Linked DNA regions of Homo sapiens. The protein of the gene in region 1 interacts with the protein of each later gene in a biochemical or structural test. Each region holds a gene or a part of one and is shown in the gene's direction. Other genes may lie near its edges.

The links.
Region 2: the proteins of MYB (region 1) and UPF2 form a complex in vitro, tested with the Homo sapiens proteins (one large-scale study listed by BioGRID).

The regions. Positions count from the first base shown.
Region 1 is NC_000006.12:135,198,308-135,201,807, forward strand, and holds part of MYB (transcriptional activator Myb), read left to right. Parts: intron 1-600; coding exon 601-743; intron 744-1,218; exon of another isoform or gene 1,219-1,274; intron 1,275-1,777; coding exon 1,778-1,892; intron 1,893-1,982; coding exon 1,983-2,108; exon of another isoform or gene 2,109-2,250; intron 2,251-3,331; coding exon 3,332-3,442; intron 3,443-3,500. UniProt on the Homo sapiens protein: Transcriptional activator; DNA-binding protein that specifically recognize the sequence 5'-YAAC[GT]G-3'. Plays an important role in the control of proliferation and differentiation of hematopoietic progenitor cells.
Region 2 is NC_000010.11:11,920,810-11,924,309, reverse strand, and holds part of UPF2 (regulator of nonsense transcripts 2), read left to right. Parts: intron 1-3,002; coding exon 3,003-3,012; 3' UTR 3,013-3,500. UniProt on the Homo sapiens protein: Involved in nonsense-mediated decay (NMD) of mRNAs containing premature stop codons by associating with the nuclear exon junction complex (EJC).

The DNA.
Region 1 (3,500 bases):
TTCTCAGAGTTATTAATATGCCGTTGTGCCTTGTGAATTTCCAGGAGGAGATTATGATATGTTGTGTTTCCCAAATTTATTTTACCTTGGAATTGTTTAAGGAACACCTAGTTTTTTCCCAGAACTTTAGTGTTCTGAGAGACACAGTTTATTATTCAAGAATTTTCCATATAATGTAAACCTTCTGTAATACTAATTTTGGTTCATAGATTATTAAAGAGAAAAAACAAAGTATGAAAGGAAACTATTAATTATTAACTATTATTTTCCCCAAAATCACTAAAGCCTTTTAAATGTTAATAAAGAACACATCTCATTCTCTTTAATGACAAGTGTCATTTATTGAGAGTATTTTCTCACAGTTTTGCAAGTTTTTCAGCAATGACCCTAAATTTTATTTCTTGGAAACCACACCCAAATCCTGGGTGCTCAATTGAAATAAAACAATACCCTAGTCAATATAACATGCTTGTTAGCATCTTTATTATTTAATATAGTGGGTCAGGAAAACATTCTTGTTATCTAGGTGTGATTTTTAAATTGGGGAGAATAAAGAATTACCATCTAATCTAAGTATTTTTTCTTTCTCTCCATATTTAGTTCTTAAACACTTCCAGTAACCATGAAAACTCAGACTTGGAAATGCCTTCTTTAACTTCCACCCCCCTCATTGGTCACAAATTGACTGTTACAACACCATTTCATAGAGACCAGACTGTGAAAACTCAAAAGGAAAATACTGTGTAAGTCTTTGGTTCAGGAATAAAATGATTTATCTTATTTACTTATATTTAATTAATGGAATATAGTTCCCAGATGTCTGATCCACTTGTATGTGCATAATTTTACTGACCATTTATATATAATCATGTCTATTCCCACATTGAATATATCTGTCCTGGGCATATTACAACTACCTACAGGTAGAAGATGGGAAGATAAACTAGATTCCTTTTGTAACTTACTCCAAAATTTCCTATATATGCACAAGTAGTTTTCATAAAACTTTTCCATTCGGTTTGTTTGTTCCCTCCATAAGGCCTTCTTATGAAAGCCAGATTTTCAACCTCCTTTCCTCTCTAATTGTAAGCTTCAGAATAAGAACGAGTATGGTTTCTTACCTAGTTTGTATTTTTATTTAATTTTATTTGTTTATTATTTATTTATTTTTAGTTTGTATTTTTTAATCTTATTTTTTCTTTTTGAATTTATGTGTAGATAGGACCTCTTCTGACATCCCCAGGAATATTATATGATTAGAAGCCAAGGGATGAGTAAGCAGTCATTTTTATTCAATAAAGCCTTAATCAATTCAGAGAAATGGTAGAGAAAGTGTGAATTATCAGAAACCTTGAAAAGAAATGCACTGTTATTTCGAAGTACAAAAAGTAAATTTTAAAAGTTTAACATGTTTTGTAGTATGGGCTCTGTTTTCATGAATAGGGAAACCTGATTTGTAAATGACATCAGGTCTTCTTGATGCTCATAGTCTTATACAGATCATAGGCACTACATGTGTCTTCAGAGCCATTAAGGAAAGATGTTAAATCATTTAATGCTTTTAGTCTTCGAGGTATAATATTTTGAAATATTTGAAAATATGTGATATGCATATTCTCTTTTTCTTAACGAATAACGTGATTAATCAGCACACCCCAATTCCATATCCGGAACAGAGTTTATTGTATTCAGTGGAAAAATGTTAAATGTAACAGGTAAAGCCATGTAGGGACATTTATTCTTTTGTATTGAGCCACTGCTTGTTTTCTTTTTAAAGTTTTAGAACCCCAGCTATCAAAAGGTCAATCTTAGAAAGCTCTCCAAGAACTCCTACACCATTCAAACATGCACTTGCAGCTCAAGAAATTAAATACGGTCCCCTGAAGATGCTAGTAAGTTCTAGAAAAGTTTTTGGATTTCATTGGTTTATTAGTCCCATTAGGAGTTCTCTCTGATGCAAAAATACCCACTCTTCCGTTTAGCCTCAGACACCCTCTCATCTAGTAGAAGATCTGCAGGATGTGATCAAACAGGAATCTGATGAATCTGGAATTGTTGCTGAGTTTCAAGAAAATGGACCACCCTTACTGAAGAAAATCAAACAAGAGGTAAACACGCAACCCTTTGGAAGCAACAAGCTGAGAATCCTGCCCCCTTTATTCCTTGTGTGCAGCTTGATGTGTCTGCCATTGGCACTGTGCAACACCACGACTTTTCGTGCAAGATTTTCATACAAGGTGCAGCGAAAAGGTACTGCCAGACTGTAGGCATCATCAACCTTTCCTTTGGGAAGCCAAGCCATCTCTATCTACTTCATGTTTGGACAGAAAACATACTAGAGAGTATCAAGAAAAGGGAGGGAAAGAGGTTTTTAATGTACTTTTAAACATTACTGATTATATAAAGTTGATATTTCATTTTTAGATGTGAAGAATTGGAATTTAAATTAAAATAATAGTATCTTTAATTAATTGTATTAAAAAAAGGGAGGCTGGGCGCGGTGGCTCATACCTGTAATCCCAGCACTTTGGGAGGCTGAGGTGGGCAGATCACAAGGTCAGGAGTTCGAGATCATCCTGGCTAACATGGTGAAACCCCGTATCCACTAAAAATACAAAAAAATTAGCTGGGTTTGGTGGCGGGCGCCTGTAGTCCCAGCTACTCAGGAGTCTGAAGCAGGATTATGGTGTGAACCCGGGAGGCAGATCTTGCAGTGAGCCAAGATCGTACCACTGCACTCCAGCCTGGGAGACAGCAAGACTCCGTCTCAAAAAAAATAAAAATTAAAATTAAAAAAGAGAATCTAACCTGCAAGGATCAAAGTTTTAGCTTGTTGGCAACAGCTGTTTTCCACCAGGTTAGATACAGTGCTTCTTGAATTTATTTTCATGTAAAGATAAGTATTTTTTTTTATAGCTAAAAATCTGATTTGATTATTTAGTAATGGAGAATTTTACCAGAATGTGATTAAAAACCAGTCTTTTGTCACCAAAAGATCTTTTATGTCACCAAAATAAAATCCTTGACGGATACAACACTACTAGGTGTATCATTAAAATATATTCTTAATAGAATAAACACCTAGAATCAGAACATTGGTTGAAAACGTAGGAGCTTTACAGGGGCAGTAAATTTGGAGCTAGTCACATTTCAAATTTGCCATCAGTGTTTCTTTGTTGAATCCAGAAGATAGAGCAAATTGAGCTGATAGTGTAAGTTAGCAACATAGTTTTATAAAAGTATTTGAGGGACTGGCCAGAAATATACTCCTGACTGTACATGTTTCATAGGAAGTTCTAGAAACAACAAAGCACTTTCTATATGCTTTTAGGTGGAATCTCCAACTGATAAATCAGGAAACTTCTTCTGCTCACACCACTGGGAAGGGGACAGTCTGAATACCCAACTGTTCACGCAGACCTCGCCTGTGGCAGATGCACCGGTAAGTACGTGTGCACCAGCCCCCAAGTTGTTATGTGACACTGGTGCCTCATGAAATC
Region 2 (3,500 bases), on another chromosome or scaffold:
CACCACGCCCGGCATAAACTATTTTTCTCCTGTAGCTTTTGATGGACTCCCAGATTTTAATTTGTATTTGTATATTTTCTAACCAGGAGATCCTTGAAATAAGGACATAAATTAAAATTTCAGCCCTTTAACAAATAAGAGGCATTTGCTTACAATGAGTTGAAACGGCAGCAGTGCTGTAAGTAAAACTATTATGTAGGGTTTTCTGTATTGCAGAACAAGGTTGTTTTTCTAATACACTAGTATTGAAAATCTGTGAAACTTAACATTTTTGGCAAGTGTTAATACTTACATGGCTTAGATGGTACTAATTCATATGGGTTATTTCAATGCTTCTCAAACTTTAAAATACGTATTAACTCTCTAGACTCTTACTAAAAAGCAAGTTCTGATTAGTTTCTTTTATTATTATTTTTTAATTATTGTGGAAAGCTTCACGAATTTGTGTGTCATTCTTTTTTGTTGTTTTTTGAGATGGAGTCTTGTTCTGTTGCCCAGGCTGGAGTGCAGTGCCGGGATCTCGGCTCACTGCAACCTCTGCCTCCCGAGTTCAAGCAATTCTTGTGCCTCAGCCTCCCAAGTAGCTGTGATTACAGGCATGTGCCACCACGCCCAGCTAATTTTTTTTTTTTTTTTTTTGAGATGGGGTCTCGCTATATCGGAGTGCAGTGGCGTGATCTCTGCTCACTGCAACCTCCGCCTCCCGGGTTCAAGCAATTCTCTGCCTCAGCCTCCCGAGTAGCTGGGATTACAGGCACCTGCCACCACACCTGGCTAATTTTTGTATTTCTAGTAGAGACGGGGTTTCACCATCTTGGCCAGGCTGGTCTTGAACTCCTGACCTCATGATCCACCCTCCTCGGCCTCCCAAAGTGCTGGGATTACAGGCATGAGCCACCGCGCCCAGCCAAATTTTTGTATTTTTAGTAGAGATGAGGTCTCACCATGTTGGCCAGGCTGGTCTCCAAAACTCCTGACCTCAAGTGATCTGCCTGCGTTAGCCTCCCAAAGTGCTGAGGGTACAGGCGTGAGCCACTGCACCCCACCTGCATGTCATCCTTGCACAGGGCCATGCTAGTCTTCTCTGTATCACTACAATTTTTAGTATATGTGCTGCTGAAGTGAGCACAACAAGCTCTGGTTACTTTTAAACAAGATCTCCAGTGATGTCAAAACTGCTGGTGTGTGGCCTACACTTAGCGGCATAGGAGTATACTATCTGACTTTTAAACCCATCTTTTTAAAAATGATTTTGTTGTTGTTTTATTTTGTTTTTGAGACAGGTTCTTGCTCTGTCACCCAGGCTGGAGTACAGTGGCGTGATCACAGGTCACCGCAGCCTCGACCTCCTGGGCTCAAGCAGTCCTGCCTCAGCCTCTCAGTATCTGGGACTATAGGCACACACCACTACAAATGGCTAATTTTTTTTATTTTTAGTGGAGTCGAGGTCTCACTATGTTGCCCAGGCTGATATTGAACTCTTGTAAACCTATCTTAAGTAGAGTCTGCATTTTTTCATCAGATTTTTTTTTTATATATCTTTATGTAAGGTTAAATTAGTGATAGTTTTGTTATACAATAGAGTCCATTGTAGAATTGCATTTAATCCAAAGTGTATATTGTATTAATAAACAGTTTTTGAGCTGATAGATTTTTGAGTCACTCAGAATGATTGTTTGCTTATAAACCAGTCAAATGACACCTTACACTATAACTAGTGATATAACTATACCTTACTTAGCAAAGATTTTGAACATTTTTTTCCTGTCATTTACTGCATTTATTTAAAGTATTCTAGGTTAGATAGCTGCCTTTTCTTGACTTCAGGAGAGATGCTTGAATCTTCTCTTTCATTCCCTCAGGGAATACTTGTGTTCTTTCCATCAGTTCATTTCTGGAAGAGTTACGGATCTTATCCAGCTGAGGATATACTTTTCCATATTTGCATCTTAACGCTTTGAAAGTTTCTTGCTAAGGTAGCTTGCTCTGTAAGAAACAAACTGTTCATCTGCTTGGGCTGCCATGACAAAATATTACAGCCCTAGTAGCTTAAACGACAGATGTCTGTTGTCTCGCAGCACTGGAGGCCGCCGGCAGGAAACCTGAGGTCAGGGAGTCAGCGGGGCTGGTTCCTTCTGAGGCCTGGAGGAAGACTGCTCCAGGCCTGCCTTCTACTGCTGGGGGTGCCGGCAGTCTTTGGCTTCCATACCTTGTCATACCTCACCCTGGTCTCCGCCTTTGTCTTCACGTGGCCTTTTCCCCCTGTGTGTGTCTGTGTGCAAATTTCCCTTTTTATAGAGATGCAGTCATATGGGATTAGGGCTCCACCCTGCTCCAGTATGGCCTTATCTGAAGTAATTACGTCTACAGCAACCTTGTTTCCAAATACGGTCACATTCTGAGGTCCTGCAGTTCAGTGTTAACATGTGAATTTTGGGGATACACAACTGAACCATAACACAAACTGTGAATTCTTAGCACCTTAAGAATAAGTTGTAGAAGAGAACAGAGCCACTCCTCCAGCCATTGCTCCAATGGCTCTGGTTAAGTTGTAGCTCAGTAGAGAGCATGAATGCTCTCAAAAAAGCACTACAGTTGTCCTCGGTATCCACAGGGGGTTGCTTCCTGGATCCCCTCAGACACCAAAATGCACAGACATTCAAGTCCCTGGTAAAAAATGGTGTAGCATTTATGTATAACATATGCACATCCTCCCGTGTACTTTACATCATCTCTACATTACTTGTAATACCTAATAAAGTGTAGATGCTATGGAGATAGTTGATATACTGTATTGTTTTTAATATTTATGTTATTTTTTATTGTTTGGGTTTTTTTCCCCCGAATATTTTTGGTCCATGGATGTGGAACCCGCAGATGCCAGGGCCACCTGTAACTTGGGGGAGTGACTTGGTGGTGGTGGGTAGCGTTGCAGACGCCATCTTGCTGGACTTTGTCCTGTGGCAGTAAGCTCTCTGATGTGACCCTGTTTGTTCCTTTAGGAGACGTTGATCCAGCAGCACGTGTCATTTCATTAGGTCCTGTATCTGATGTTGTGGTTAGTGGAGTCCTCCAGCAATTGAATGAGAGCAGTGGACACATCTCAGCAGGTCGGTCTAGAGAGTTGCGAATCTAAACCTGGGACAGGCTGGGGCCAGGAGGCAGAAACACCAGCCTCTGCCAACACCGGAACAAGCCGACGCTTCCAGACAAGGCGGAAAAGGCCTTTTGTAATGGAAATCTCGCGAGGGTTAATCTTCTCTTGAGAATGGCAGTCAAGAAATGAGATGGTTCACTTGACTACTGAGCAGTTACACCAAGGAGAGCGTGAAGGAGATGATTGAGCCAGAGAAGAAACGGGTTGTGATGGTAATGGTGTGGGGGAAATGAACTTGAGCTTTAAACTTGATTTGAGTTTCAGTGTCTCTGAATTGAACATCCCACGTTGGAAGAAGATACATTTGGGGGCTCCAGGACTACAGTAGAAAAGTATAGAGCAA